Linked DNA regions of Homo sapiens: region 1 is linked to region 2. The links come from fine-mapping of genetic effects on gene expression. Tissue or cell type: whole blood. Region 2 holds a variant in brackets; the other region holds the start of a gene. All regions are shown on one strand. Distances are between the middles of the regions.

Region 1 (8,105 bases), 47 kb before region 2:
AGCAAAAAGACAAGTGACAAAAAAAACCCAACCCTTGAAATGATTCATTTACATAAAATTCAAAAACATGTAAAATTATAGGTACTCTTTAAGGAATGAATCATATATGGGAAAACGGTAAAGAAACAGTGATGAATAATTCAGAGGAGAGGTTACCTCTATGTGGGAGTAAGGTGAATATGACCACAAGAGGCCAACAAGCATAGCTATTCTTTTTTGGGGTATGATTTATTTTATAATTAAAAAACGTGACTTCAGAGATTCTAAAAGCTCCTTTTCCCCTCCTCCCTAATTGTGATTGGGAATAAAATATCACTAACACTCTCACACACTCATTCAAGTTCTATAGTTAGATTTCCATCATAGTGTCTTCACTTGTGGCTACTAACCTGGTCTAGGTATCAGTCTTCTCTGTGTTGTCTTAGTTTCCACATTTATAAAATGAGGATTATAGGAGTACTTACTTTGTAGGATGATTCCTAAACAAGAGAGTACATGGGAAATGCTTAGCACATGGTCTGGCTTCCAGTGGGTGGCCGATGTTTGTAATTTGTTTATACCATTGTCTCAGCTTGTAGCATCTTCATTGCCTCTATCTACTGAATGCTTCTCATCCAAGGACATCCAGTTCAATGCCTGAAAACTGCTGCCCCCACCCAAGCCAATTTTCCCCTCTTTTAAATGTCTAGACCTTCCATTGCCTGCATCATTTATGAGGTATTACTATATATTTACTTATTCATTCATGCAGCAAATCATGTGCCAGGTATTAGGGACACAGAAGTGAATGAAGCAGGCATAGTCACTGTCTTCATGGAGCCTGCAGCCTGGTGAGGGAGATACACATTAAACAAATGAGCAAGCACAGAATGATCTACTCCAGCTGTGCTAAGTGCTATCAGGAAGAAGTGTGGGAAGCCTGGAGAACCTGTTATAGAGGAAGCTCACCTAGACTGTAGAGTCAAAAAAAAAAATTTCTTTGAGAAAGTAACGTCCAAGGTGAGACCTGAAGGACACATTGCTTTTTATTGTCACCATTGACAATATTTACTGAGAATCTATAACCTAGGTGAAATAATCAGTGCACATGTCCCTGAAGAAAAAATCGTGGCAAGAGGTAATACATGTTAAATACCAAGTGAAAGGAATTCACACTATTAGGTAGATATTTGGAAGAAGGTTAACCCCTTGGTAGAAGTGTTTTACGTAAAATGTCAGATCTAAACAGAAACTTCAAGAAAGGTTGGAACTAAGACAAAGGGAAAATGGCATTCTGGATATGCATATATGGGCAGAGATAAGAAAAGGCAAGACAGGTTCAGACAGGTAGCTTGAACCAAAGAGTGACATATGAAGGGAGTAAAGAGAAAGGGTCAGATTAGGCCAGGCACGGTGGTTCACAACTGTAATTCCAGCACTTTTGGAGGCTGAGGCGGGCGGATCACCTGAGGTCAGGAGTTCGAGACCAGCCTGACCAACATGGAGAAACCCTGTCTCTAATAAAAATACAAAATTAGCCTGGCCGTGGTGATGCATGCCCGTAATCCCAGCTACTCAGGAGGATGAGGCAGGAGAATCGTTTGAACCCAGGAGGCGGAGGTTGCAGTGAGCTGAGATCGCGCCATTGCACTCCAGCCTGGGCAACAAGAGTGAAACTCCATCTCAAAGAAAGAGAAAGGGTCAAATTGTAGAGGTACTTGCTTTTTGTCTTAGAGTTTTCTTTTTGTATCATGGGCTTCTCTGGGATTCTCATGAAAGCCTTGTACCCTTCCTCCTCCTCCTCAAAACATAGTGCATTTATAAAGCTGCATAAAATTTCAGGGTTTCATAATTTCCCTTAAGTAGCATTTAGGAGCTCCTGCTATATGCAAATAGCACTGAAAGGATTTGAGTAGAAAAGTGGCATGTTCCAAACAGTGTTTAGAAGGATTCATTTGCCAGAGAGGATAATAACTGTTGGCAGTGAGGTCAATTGATAAATTATTGCAATATAATGCAAGTAGGAGCTCATATGGCCCTAGGCTAAGGTGGTGGCCCTAGGAATCCATCCATCGATTAAACTAACATTTATTGAGAGCTGACTTTGGGACAGGCCCTGTGCCCAGTGTTGAGGATGTGATAATGAATACGGCAAGACCACTGCCCTCAAGGAGCTCCAAGCTGGGCAGGATCAGAAAGAAAGGCAGGCAGCCACAGAGGCAGAGGGGATCAGGTCAGTGGCAGGTTCTCCTACTCAGAACTTCCCACCATCTGTGCCTTAGAATAAATTCAAGGCCCTTCACAAAACAGACACAACTCACCTTTCTGCTGTCATTTCCACTGGGGCCCCCACCACAACCACTTTGATCTCTCTCACAGACACACCCCCCGCAGGGCAGCTACCCTGGACTCTGGACTGTCTTCTGACTCTGCTTGCATTTTCTGGCCTCTGCCCTGTCACTGGTTTTCTCCCACCAGCTGTGCCTGCTCAAATTCCTACCCATTCTTTAAGACCCAGCTAAGATGTTGCCTTCCCTCAACATTTGTCAGAGTTTCCCCATTCATTCTGCCCTGTGTCACTGAGTGTGCCTGTATTAGGGTTCTCTAGAGGGACAGGACTAATAGGATACATGTATATATGAAAGGGAGTTTATTAAGGAGTATTGACTCATATGATCACAAGGTGAAGTCCCACAATAGGCTGTCTGCAAGCTGAGGAACAAAGAAGCCAGTCCGAGTTCCAAAACCTCAGAAGTAGGGAAGCCAACAGTGCAGCCTTCAGTCTGTGGCCGAAGGCCAGAGATCCCCTGACAAACCACTTTTATAGGTCTAAGAGTCCAAAAGCTGAAGAACCTGGAGTCCGATGTTCGAGGGTAGGAAGCATCTAGCACGGGAGAAAGGTGAAGGCCAGGAGACTCAGCCAGTCAAGTCCTTCCAACTTCTGCCTGCTTTTATTCTAGCCATGCTGGCAGCTGATGAGATGGTGCCCACCCAGACTGAGGGCTGGTCCGCCTCTCCCAGTCCACTGTTAATCTCCTTGGCAACACCCTCACAGACACACCCAGGAACAATACTTTGCATTCGTTCATATCAATCGAGCTGACAATATTATCCATCACAGTGCCTCAGTCTCCCCAGTATTCAGGGGAGGGCAGAGATGTTGTCTTTTTGTCCTTCTGTTCCATGGCGTGCCCAGATCCTGTGATGGCAGGTGCTCACTATATCTATGGAACTGAAAGGCCAGACCCTGGGGAGAGGACAGAGCAGGTTTGGGAGCCAACTGTGAAACCTTGGCAGTGGGAGTCAGGAAGAGCAACCTAGGTCTTTGCATCCTCATGCAACAAGGATGGAGGCCACCTCAAGTACACATTATGTGCTCAGCAAAGACGAGATTTAAAAGTATAAAACATTCACATTTGAGCAACTTAGGTCATTAAGAATTTGGCCTCTTTATAATGATAGCAGTGTCCACAGGAAGAGAGTGAGTGGGACATGAAATTTCTGGTTCTGCATGCAGACTTCTACATTTCTACCAGCTAATTATTATTATCATTAAATTATTAAGCAAAGAGCTTACTCGCAAAGGTCAACTTTTTATAAAGCATAAGTCATCCTTGGAAGTGTCGTTTGGTCATTCTAGTAATTCTTGCTTTTAATTCTTTAACAACTATGGGTAGAACTGCAGTGTACCATTATTCCACCTTTGTTTGCACTGTCAAAATACCCAAGACGTTGCCAAGGACGACTGAATTCTTAGGCTTGGCCGCAGCCACCCACAGGGCAGGTGCTCACTTCCTCCTCCGGGGTAGAAGAGATCATGGGTCCCTTTCCAGTCCAGGCTGGAATGGAGAAGTCGTCCCTGACCACAGTGCGCCAGGCAGAGGCCAAGGTTCTAAACTGATAGAACCCACCCACCAGGGCGGTGCCAAGTCCCAGTAAGGGCCGCATCTCCCCAGCTTGGCTGATGAAGAGGCGGGGACCGAACCCTCCAGTGCAGGAGCCTGTCTGGTGCCTGGCTCTCCCACCGATCCGCACGTACCTCTTCCTCGCGGGTCCTACCCCACGCAGGTATCTAGCGCCCAGCCCTGTTCATTTCCCACACCTGGCCCGCTCCGCCCCGGGGCCGAGGAGACGCACGTCTGATTGGCCGAGGGCGGCGGGGGCGGGGCCGGGGCGCCCCCAGAGGCCTAGACAGAGGTGCGGGCGGGGCAGGCCGCGCTCAGCAGGCGGGGCGGGAGCCGCGTGCGCCCGAGGACCCGGCCGGAAGGCTTGCGCCAGCTCAGGATGAGGACAGGCTGGGCGACCCCTCGCCGCCCGGCGGGGCTCCTCATGCTGCTCTTCTGGTTCTTCGATCTCGCGGAGCCCTCTGGCCGCGCAGGTAACCGCGGGCACGCCAGCCCCGCAGTCCGCTGGGTGCCTCGACGCCACAGCTCTGCTGCCTTCCAGCCTGGGGCAGGGCTGCGCCCCTGGGGCAGGTCACGGCTGCTTTGCTGTTGGGGCGGGGGGGCTCTGGAGCCGGAAGAGTGAGTCGCAGGGGAGGTCTGGCAGAGGAAGCGCCCCAGTGCCCTCGGGGGCCCGGAGGAGGGCGCGGTGGATGTGGGAGGACAGGGCCCTTCTGGTGCAGAGGGGACGCGGTGCACCGTAGAGTAGGCGCACGGAGGCTTTTTTGGCCGGGTGCGCTGCTCCATCGTCGCCTCTCTTATATAATGTTGCTGGAGTATGGGGTTCCCCATCTGCCCTCTTGCGTCCCGTCCCTCCCGTTCTCGCTTTTCCTTCGGCCCTTGGTCACCTTGGCCACAGGGCCAAGAGGAGCCTCCACCCACAGCGCCAAGGATTCCCCACGATTCCCGGATTTCACTGCGCCTACGGTGCGCATCAGGAAGGAAGTCAGGTTAAATAAACCATCTCCTCCGAAAGTGACCAAGACCAAGAGTCAGCTATGATGCCCTCACCCACCGCCTAGAGCAACAAACCTTTCTTCTCATTGGTTTATCAGCTCCAAATGACCCCGCTCCCCCAAGGCTGACAGCCTCACGGTGAAGGGCAGGTCGCCTGCTTGGGGACCTGCTGCCTCTCACTGCGGAAGCAGGACCAGAAACAGACAGCCTTCATTGATGTTCAGGGTAGTGCCAGCCCCACCACACCACACCCCTTGGCAGCAACCGGTTGCTTTTACTTTCTCTTTTTGCCTGGGCGAGGGGTGTGCAGAGAACTTTGTTTCTTGGTTGGACTGCATCATGGGCACTCAATGGGCCACCCTCCACCGGCCACTTCTGTTATCGTGCCTGTATGAGGAAGGAAAAGATTGTCCAGGCAGTTTGAAAAACATTAAATTGTTGGTGGCTCTTATTTTCTTTGCAGCTAAGCTAAGTTACCATCTGGTTTAGACTTCCTTCGGAGAGCGATGGGAAGAGATTTCTCAGAGTGTGAATGGCATCATCCTATCTACAGCAAGGACCTGGAAATGAACCCTGCTCTGAGTCACACTTCTCTATTCTCCTTTGACCCTGTGTGCTAGGAACTACCAAAAGAATCCTTTAAAATAAGATCCTTTATTGCCTTGATAATTTATTCTGCCTGCCCCACAATCCAAGGTGGAAAAGTTCACTGCAGCAACTAACTACAGTGAAAATGCACTAACTTTTCAATCACTAACCTCTTGGTTCCCATCGACATCTGCTTCAGTCCTGTTTTTATCTCCTTCACAAATTTCAGGATTTCCCTAATTCTTGCAATCTCTGCAATCACTGCCCTTTATCACTGACCCAAAGCAAAAAGCACCAGGTTTAACTCTGTTCCCCCTGTGCTAGGTCCCCACAGGTTTTGTTATCCTGTATCCTTCCTTACTCCTAGCAGCTACTCTGATCGATTTTCTCTCACCCTCAGAGCAGACTTGTGGCCTTGTTTGGGGAAGCACTGGAATTTTGAACCCCCAGCCATTTGGGTCAATTGTTTGGCAAGAGTGTCCGCTTCATGATGCTGGTGATGGCATGCACCTCGTCACATGTGCACGGCTAGGCTTGTGCAGGTGGCCTCTATTACCCAAACACTGAAGGAGCCCCTCTGTGTCCTTGGAGAGATGCCAGGTGCTTAGTTTACATTTTTGCCTGCTTGGAGAGCTAACAGCTTGAAGTAAACCAATCCATCAGGGACTCCTGAGGTTTTCACCAGCCAACACCACCCAATCGTGCGTGAAGACTTTCTGACTCCCTGGACATTGCCATGGACTCAACTGTCACTTCAGGACCTGTTTTTGAACTAACAAACCTAGACTTCTGATTCTCTCTTGCTGCACCTACCTGTACATTCCGAACACATGGTAGAGACTCTACAAAATGCTTAATATGTGATCTATGGACGGTTCCCCTGAAATTATAAATGCTGCCATCTTCATCCTTCTTGTTTTCCCAAGCTATTTCCCTATCCATTTGTCTGTGGTTATAAATGTCAATATCCAGCTTCTCTTTGGAATGTGTGAAGCTCTTTGGTCTAGGGACCAAAGGCAGGAATTATTTAGTGATCAGACAATAAGAAAACACTGAAAGAGATGATTTGCCTTTGATGGATGTAAAAATACTAAAAATTTATTTTCAATTTATGGTAATGCTACTTAGCCATTTTCTCTCAAACACCACTGGAGAATTTATATAACATGAAGCATATACAAAATGCATCTAGGGGGTAATGAGGCTTCTCTTCATCAACTTCTGCCTTTTAGATTTGCCCCAATATTGTACTTGGAGGTAAATATTAAAACTCCATTGAGGACTGGTATAAAGTTGTAAAGTGAACAAAACCCAGTAGAAAGCTATTGATAAAGAATCTATTTTATAAAATAAGTTTTATACAATAAAATCTACTCTGTAATTACCTTTTCAAAGTATATTTCTAAAATAGCTTATATGCCCTTCTGTACCAAATTTTCTAAATAAGGGATTATGTTCACACTTTCTCAGTCCTCCTTCCAGCTCTTCAACCTACTATCCCAATAAGGGTCGTAAGACTGAGGCAGTTTCAACAGCTCCTGCTAAGGTTAAAGAAAGATACGGGGAAGCATCATGAAAGGATAGGACTCTCCCTATCTAATGTATGTTTATACATACCTTATATATGGAGGCTAATAAGTTTCCTTTAAGTATATCAATAATTAAGATCTGTACTAAGTGACCACTATAAGTGTCACATTGAAATTGCATACTTGGTTCAAACAAGGGATTAGTCTGAGAAAAACATCTATATTCAGAGATGTAGCAGTTTGTTAGGAAGTTTGGCAGCTCCACTTTAACATAGCTACTCCACACCTCTCCTGTAGTGTTTTAGTGTTTCAATCTCGGACTCCTAACTCCTGCTTTTTCCACTGTATAAAGAAATGTAGCTAATCCATTGGATTCTACAAAAATTTTGAAAAATCCAGAACTGCAAACTGCAAAGGAAGGCAAAGCTGCTGCTTCCCCAGTTCACCTGTTTGGGATCCAGCACACAAAGCAGAATGCCCGGGAAAGACAGCAGCAAGACTACAGGGCAGGAGAGGGGCTGTTTCCAACAAGGGTGATGGGCACGTCTCCTGCAGGAGCAGACTTCTTTTTTCTTCTGTAATTTTTGATACTTTGGAATGCAAGATTTATTTTGGAGAGGCAAGAGAGAATACTTTGGAAAAGATGTAGATCAGAGATCTGAGTAGCTATTGAATTGTGGGAGAAGGCCATGAGAGAAAGTGTGAGTAGTAATCTTATAGCACATTTTCCTTTTTTGTTGACTGTCTTCCCAGCCTGTGTCCATCAAGTAGAAAATGGCAGAGGAATGTCAAAGAAGAAAGTGTGAGGGATGTGGCTGGGCACGGTATCTCATGCCTATAATCCCAGCATTTTGGGAGGCCGAAGTGGGTGGATCACCTGAGGTCAGGAGTTCGAGACCAGCTTGGCCAACATGGTGAAACCCCATCTCTACTAAAAATACAAAAATTACCCGGGTGTGGTGGCAGGCACCTGTAATCTCAGCTACTTGGGAGGCTGGGGCATGAGAATCACTTGAACCTGGGAGGCGGAGGTTGCAGTTAGCTGAGATTGTGCCACTGCACTCCAGCCTGGGCAACAGAGCAAGACTCCATCTCAAAAAAAAAAGTGTGA
Region 2 (8,107 bases):
CTCCTGAGTGGCTGGGACTTCAGGCATGTGCCACCACGCCCAACTAATTTTTTAGTAGAGATGGGGTTTCACCATATTGGCCAGGGTGATCTCTAACTCCTGACCCTGTGATCCACCCGCCTCAGCCTCCCAAAGTGCTGGGATTACAGGTGTGAGCTACCGTGCCCTTCCACGCCCAGCTAATTCTTATATTTTTTTGTAGAGATAGGGTTTCACCATGTTGCCCAGGCTGGTCTCAAACTCCTGAGCTCAGGCAGTCTACCCATCTTAGCCTCCCAAAGTGTTGGAATTACAGGTGTGAGCCACATCTGGCCACAAGTGATTGTTTTCAAAGCTTTCTCTTTATACTGTTTATTTTCATTTTTATAGTAAGAAGCTTTTCTTTTTATTATCTAAATATGGAAGAGTTATACAAAAAATAAAATATCTTTTTCTGGGGGGACTAGGTGGGGATGACAGAGTCTCACTGTGTCACCCAGGCTAGAATACAGTGGTGCCAGTATGACTCACTGCAGCCTCAACCTCCTGGGTTCAATTGATCCTCATGTCTCAGCCTCTCAAGTACAGGCACATGCCACCACATCCAGCTAATTTTTGTATTTTTTGTAGAGATGGGGTTTCACCATGTTGCCCAGGCTGGTCTCGAATTCCTGGGCTCAAGCCATCTGCCAACCTTGGCCTCCCAAAGTGCTGGGATTACCAGCATGAGTCACTGTGCCTGGCCAAAAGTATCCTTATTGGAGGAAATTATTTGTTTGGAGAAACCTCTAGAAAATCCTTGCTATTATTCCACATTTATATTATAAGGATATATTAGTGTAATAGTTATAGGAGCAAAATTATTCTCAGATATTCAATATTTACTCCAATTTTTGTCACCAAAAATTGGTGACTCCAATGTCACCTCCTTTTTTATTCTTTCTAAATGTAAAACTCCTTGAGTTTATTTTCAAATTGGAGCATATCTGAGATTAGTTAATCAAATAATGAGCATTTCAACACATGCAAAAAAAGAAAAAAGTATTTTGCAAACCTGATTCTCTATGACTCCAGCGGCGAACTTAATACACTATTAACTTCCACTTCTGAAACTGTGGCTTCCTTTGTTTGGAAACTTATGACATTATGACATTTGCTAAGTCCTCTCATGATTTAGCATCATGATATAAAAAAGAGATGGAAAAGTTTTCTTTCTGTGGCATATCAACGCACTTGAGTGATTAAGGCTGCCTAAATTACATCTAAATTGCAAATATTTATACATCAGTCTTAAATTCTCAAGCCTCTCTTGTCTTTTCAGGTGTCTACTATTATCATGCCAAATGAGTTTCAGCAGGATTATGACATCAGAGACTGTGCTGCTGTCAAGGTCAGTACAATGCTGGAAAATCTGCATATTTAAAACATAAGTCCATCATCATATGCAGTCAAGTAACAGATCCATGGAGTGTCTTTTTATGTGAAGCATGATGTTAGATGCAGTGAGAGATAAGCACACCCATGGCCTGGCCCTCAGCAGCCTAACTTACACTTCATTTGAGAGGATAAAATTCATATTCAAGAAAACCTCTCTCATTACCACGCAGTAATATGCTCCAAATGAGGGGGCTGAGGAAGGCTAATGAAATTCAGAGGAGAAAGTGAGTCCCATGGCCATTTCCCAGGAAGAGGTGGGACTTGAACTGGGACTTTAAGGATGGATAGAGTTTCTACAAATGGGATAGGGTAAGGTTTTTTCATGAGGGGATGGTATGAGAAAGTGGTATAAAATAAGGTGGAAGTGGAAGAGGGCAGTGGAGAACAGAATACAGATCAAGAAGTTTCATTGGTGCTGTCCTTGATAACAGTATTAGGAAATCAGATTGATGCCACTTTAAGGAATTTCTACACTTCTTGATAGGCAACAGGGCATTTTTTAAAGTTTCTGAGTAGGGAGGGTCACATGAACTAAGGAGGGTATGAGGAAGATTCATCTTGAGACAGATGTCAAAAGCAACAGGTAAGATTGGAAGGCATAGAAGACCAGTGAGGCATCTTCCTTTGCAGAATGCATTCATGTATCCATTTCATAAACAGTCCAAGGAGTCAGTGAGGCACTGGGTGATAGAACAATGACAAGGTACAAAGCATAGCCATTGTCTTCACAAAACTAAAGTCTAGTAGGAAATAAAGACAAGTAAACAAGCAATTACAACACCACTGAGTAAAGACTATGACATGCGAAATACAAGTTTTATGCAAGAACAAGAATATTATGAAAGAATAATAAGGATGGTGATGGTGATGGTCCATGGTGGTGGTGATGATGATGATGGAGCAGCTAACACTGATTAACTCCTTTATGAGCCAGCCACTATACTAGGCATGTCACATATGTCACATAGCACATAAGCAATCTTGTGAGGTAGGCACTGTTACTGTATTCATCTCACATGGAAATTTGAGCTGTGAGTAATTTACCCCAGCTTACATGGAGTAAATTTAAACTGAAAGAACTGAAATTTACACCCATGTGTGTCTGGGTCTGGTACTCTTAACCACTATGCTATATGACTAGGCATTTATAGAAATAGAAAGGGTATTGATTTATGAGAAAATTGTATGTTTTAGTTCAGATATTTTGAATCCAAGCTAGCTATAAGATGTATGCTATGGTAAGTTGAGATCAAGAGTCTTGAGTTGAAAGGAAAATGTATATTTTTAAAAAAAGGGCCAAGAAGTGGATTTGGAGGAACTGCCAATATATAGAGTGAAAAAAGATGAAGATGGAGGAGACATCAGTTAATATCTTTGATTTGTAGTCCAAGAAAGAGATTCAACAAGGTGGCTGACCAGAAATGTTACAGGAAGGCTGAGGGATATAAGAACTGACAAAACCACAGGAAAGCACTGTTTTCAAAGTAACTCTTCTAGTAATAAACTGTGTAGTACATGTCATTTTTATAGAATTCCCAATGTAACACAGGAAAAGGTGAAAACTTCAGAGAAGCTTATGGAATTTTTAGTAGTGTTGAGAACACTGGTACAATAAACTGTGTTCTAGGGAAATAGAGTTGCCAAGTATGGAGAGATTTGAAAATCTACCAAATAAATAAAGAGATACTAATGCAACCTGCATCAGGAACAAGCCCAGCCAGGGCAGTGTTCTGTAAGGAAAATCTTACCTCACCTGCCACAGAACCCCCAGAAACTTGGTCTTAAGAGAAAATAGTCTAAGAAGTGATGGATGTCTCTCCCAAGTAATGCCTTCCCCTATCCTTTTTATCCTACTTGCTGACTGGAATTTGTAATGAGCCATCCTGGACCATGTGGAGAAGGGCAAAATCCTAGAAATGGCATGGTAACACCAGAGAAGGAGCCTGAGCCACTGAGGCTGGACCTTTATGTCGCTTTCTGATCTAATTTGATCACAGCTTGGTGCTTGGATACCTCTGAAATAAATATTCTAACAAAAATTGTCAGGTGTGGGGGAGAAAATTTGCATTTTGGACATAAACATGACTTTACAACATATTTCCTTTGTTAGCCCCTTTGAGGGCTCTTGCTCAGGGTATTACTGTTTAAATATTCCATTAATTCATGTGTTCATTTATCGAACAAATATCTTAGGTGCTAGAGCTAAAATAGAGATCAAAGTCATAGGGCTTACAGTTTAGTGTTCCATAAGGGATGTATCAACTTCAAAATATTCTGCAATACTTTTCCTCTTATAGGTATTTCATAGGCCATGGCGAAGAGGCTG[G/A]CATTTCTATGATGATAGAGAATTTATTTATTTGAGGCCTTTTGCTTGTGATACAAAACTTGAATGGGTGTGCCAAATTCCAAAAGGTAAGTGGTAGTTATTCCTTTTCACAACCTTCTCATGTTAACATTGTGAATGCCTAGCTCAAAGTAGCTAGGGGAGCATTTTGATCTATAATTCTGATGTCTAAAAGCCTATGATGATGATGCAATTAATATGTGGAGCACCCCCTGCCTGACTCCGGCTTCTAATAGAAGGCTAGCTTATTGAAATTTAGTGATATCTTACTCTTTGATCATGGAAGAATTTGCATAGAAGATAAAATGTGAGGCTCATTCAGGGAGATTAGATTTTGGATGAAATATTATTTTAAGCAAAAGGAGAAATGCAGAATCATTTTCGTTTTTATTTTGATGCAAAATGAAAAAATAAAGATAATCTTGGGAAGAATAAGGCAGAAGTCAAGAAATAAAAATTTGGCAGGTCCCTGTAAAATTTAGAAGCAATTTTCAATGAACTATAAAACTGCTAATACTTTATATAAATTCAAATTTGAGAAGCCAGTTAGATTGATAGTATAGCCTTTGATAACAGAAGGGAGAGTGGGGAGAAATGTAGATACCATTTTACTTTACTTTTTCCAGGAAAACATGAAATATTAAGAAAAATGTTAAGACTTTAATTCTCAAATTATTATTATTATTTTTTAAGACAGTCTTGCTCAGTCTTCCAGGCTGGAGTGCAGTAGCACAATCTTGGCTCACTGCAGCCTCTGCCTCCCAGGTTCAAGTGATTCTCCTGCCTCAGCCACTGGCGTAGCTGGGACTACAGGCACCCACTACCGCACCTAGCCAATTTTTGTATTTTCAGTAGAGTCAGGGTTTCACCATGTTGGCCAAGCTGGTCTCGAACTCCTGACCTCAGGTGATTGGCCCGCCTCAGCCTCCCAAAGTGCTAGAATTACAGGCATGAGCCACTGCACCCAGCCTCAAATTATTTTTAAGCAGAGATTGGCTGTATGAAATTAATTAGCAGAAAACCCATAGAAGGTTTTTAAAGAAATCTCTGAACTGAATGTAAACAGATCATTGAAACTAAAGGTATATCCTCCTACAAGTTCTCAAAGAACCCAAAGTTCACATCATGGAACTGCCTATTAGAAGATTGTTATTCCTAAAATAGTTAAAAGAGCTTCAGATGTGACATCAGGTAGTAGCAAATCTCTTTCACAAAGGCAAACTGTCAAACCAGTTGTAAGGGAAAGACAGTTGTGTTGATGGGTTTTTCTAAAGGATAAATTATGCCTAAGTTATTCTTGATTATTTTATTAAACCCAAAAAAGGGACAAAGGAAAACCAGTTTGGATATCCTTTAAACAAGTGGAAAAGTAACTTGTATATAATTAATTCGGACAATGTCTCTGTTTTGAAGTGTTAATGTGAGCCTCCCATTACTCTCTGGCATTTGTTAGCATTCCACAGACAGTGTCATTGTTCCAACCAAAGTGCCCTCGATGGGAGCTGCTGCCCCCACCTCCTGTTTGAGCAGTGGAGCAGACCCCAGAGTTTAAACAAGGGCAACCTTAGAAATGGCAAATTAGCCACCAGAGGAAATAGTATGAAGGGCATGTGGAGGTGTATATATATTTTTTTTAATATATATTTTTTAACAAGAGAGAAAGGAATTAACCCACTTAAAAATATAAATCAATTAATCGAACAAATCTAAATAATTCCACCTCCATTATCCCCATGCAGAAATAAAATAAAAAACTAAACTCCTGTTCTCAGCCTGTCCCAATCACTTGAAGAAATCAATGATTGCTTGCTCCAGGGTTTAAATGTTATGTTCACCCTTTTTTGACCGTACTGTACCTAACTTTCTAAGTTACGATGTGATGCATTCAGCTGGTTGGATATTTTCTTGGTTATTAGAGCAGCCTAAGTTTACTCAACTTGTATTCATCTGTATTTTCTGGTTTTCTTAAAGAAGTTTTCCTCTTATGTATTCTAAATCACCATGCCTCTTCTCTGGCTCTTGCCTTTTTATTACTTGGTTCTAATTAATCCTCTCTTCCCTAAAAGAGATATTTTGACAACCTGTAAATTTGAAGTTACCTCAACCACAGTGGATATTTGTACTTTTTAAATATTATTTTTTGAGAAAACTGTGTCAAAAATAAGGCTCATAAAAGTGTTTTTAGGAAAATTACCTATGATGCCATTACCCAGACATAGCAATTTTTATTGTATTTCTTGATACCTTGTACACACATACATGTTTGCAATCTTGTATAAAAAACACCTTGCATCCTACTTTTCTCACTAATTTAAAGATATTTAAAGGTTAGCCATAGCTTTCCCTCCCCCACACACAAATAATCAGAAGTCTTTGACAAGATTACAGACAAGAAACTATGTACATTTTGAACTGACTTGCAACATTATTGTTGGAAATTATCCAATACGAATAGAACTGGCTCAGAGAGAGACTAAAGATGCTGGCTATTCAGGCAGTCCTCTGAGTCAGGTCTTCTGATGCCTGCCTGAGGCTCACATGCCACACCAAAATTAAGACCAGCTATTTTACTCTGTAATTTCTAAGATTAAGCAAATGATGTCTTTGACTTGAAGCCAGTGTGATCTGTGGCCAGAATGAAAAGGGGGAGGAACGCAAATAGGCTCCCATGGGGAACTTCCCTGTGCCTGGTCCTGTGCTGGCCACTTCCTCCAGGGCATCACACGTGACCTTCACTCTCTGTGAGTCAGGTAGCCATCTAGTTTTCATAGAGGAGAAAATCAAGGCTCAGAGAGGGTTAAGCCACTCATCCGAAATACCATGGCAGCAAAATGCATAAGGGCATTTGCACACTGACCCGCCCAGCTTCCAACCCGGAATTCTGTGTAGCATGCCATTATTTACTCCGTTTCCATCTGGGAATCCTGAGTCACTTTTAATTATTTTCCTCTCAGTTTTGTCTCATCTTCTCAAAAGGTTCAACACTGGAGCATTGTACATTGTTTCCAAGGATATCTTGGAAGACAATGAACTCTATCAACCTAAGTTTACAGAACAGTTAACCTGTTTCATTAGATGCAGAAGTGGTTCCTGAATAACTTCCCTTTTCAATGACCGTTATTTTGGTTCCTACTTCTTATGCTTCTGTGTAACACATACAATATCATTATTTACTTGTTTTTACTTTCTAATTCTTAGCTATATTTTATCTGTCTTACTTCTTTTGTGACCTCTGTGACACAAGGTAAAAGACTGCTAGAAATACTTCATTAATATTTAACGTATCTGCCTTTTGGATTTCTCCTGAAGCAGGTTTAGCATCGGCCCTACAAAATACAACTAAAGTGATCAAAACGTGAAGTGGGTTGGCCAGAAATGGACAAGACTCAACAATACTGCAAGTCCTTTCGAGCTACATTAAAGGCCGTACTTATAGTATACCCTGATCTGTCATGGAATACTAATGCCACTTGCTTTCTTCCTCATACAGGCCGTACTCCAAAAACACCAGACTGGTACAATCCAGGTGAGTTAAGAAAACTGAAATTTAACCAAAGCTGCTTTTACCTTGTCACTAATGCATTTAGTTAATTATTTAAGTGCCAGCTTCTTCTCTATACATCTTCAAGTGAGACAAAATTTCTCCAGGCAAGGAAGGTGAGCGACTGGTATGGGATGAGGTGATGAGGGTGACTTTTTCCTTCCCTGTGAGTGTAGGGGAGTGGCAGAGTCACTGGCTCAGGAATCTCTTGTTCCTTGTAGTCAGTACTGCCCCAGCCAGAGAGGGCCGGTAATCTGAATTACTATTTATAGTTTTGAACATTAACTCATGCTTAGAGGACACAGTTTGCTTTGCATAGTCATAATTCTAATCTTTTTCTTCTTCTTCTTTAGACCGTGCTGGAATTCATGGACCTCCACTTATAATTGAAGGAAGTGAATATTGGTTTGTTGCTGATCTTCACCTAAACTATGAAGAAGCCGTCCTGTACTGTGCCAGCAATCACAGCTTTCTTGCAACTATAACATCTTTTGTGGGACTAAAAGCCATCAAAAACAAAATAGCAAATGTAATTTAAAAGAATATATTTTAAATATATTTCTTATTTTTGTATTTATTCCATTTAAAAATATTACAAAAATTTTGCCAAAATCTACAAAAGTTAAATTTTTCTTTAATGTAAAATCTGCCTCACAGCATCCAAATTTGTTTCATGTTAGAAAAATTAAGTAGAATTGCTTATGTTTTAAAATATACAAGATTAATAATAAATGTCACTTTATAAGGTAAACATCAGTAGATAATATAGATCATTCTAATTTCCTGTCACATTTTTTACTAAAAGT

The links. PIP is the estimated chance that this variant, and not a neighbour inherited with it, causes the effect.
Region 1: LY75 starts here. The variant in region 2 is fine-mapped to the expression of LY75 in whole blood (TOPMed, PIP above 0.99).

The regions. Positions count from the first base shown.
Region 1 is chr2:159,900,841-159,908,945 of GRCh38, reverse strand. LY75 (lymphocyte antigen 75) reads left to right here and starts at 4,190. Exons shown (of 35, transcript NM_002349.4): 1 at 4,190-4,357. The coding sequence starts at 4,264. It overlaps LY75-CD302 (LY75-CD302 readthrough), which reads left to right and starts at 4,190. Exons shown (of 38, transcript NM_001198760.1): 1 at 4,190-4,357. The coding sequence starts at 4,264. RefSeq lists silencers at 3,988-4,229, 3,999-4,458 and enhancers at 4,639-4,718, 4,859-4,908, 5,129-5,178, 5,229-5,278.
Region 2 is chr2:159,854,083-159,862,189 of GRCh38, reverse strand. It overlaps LY75-CD302 (LY75-CD302 readthrough), which reads left to right. Exons shown (of 38, transcript NM_001198760.1): 15 at 1,301-1,369; 16 at 3,714-3,828; 17 at 7,251-7,286; 18 at 7,655-7,830. It overlaps LY75 (lymphocyte antigen 75), which reads left to right. Exons shown (of 35, transcript NM_002349.4): 15 at 1,301-1,369; 16 at 3,714-3,828; 17 at 7,251-7,286; 18 at 7,655-7,830. Among named protein-coding and RNA genes, the nearest start is that of LY75, 47 kb to the left of the region's middle. The variant G/A (reference allele first, on the strand shown) is at 3,743.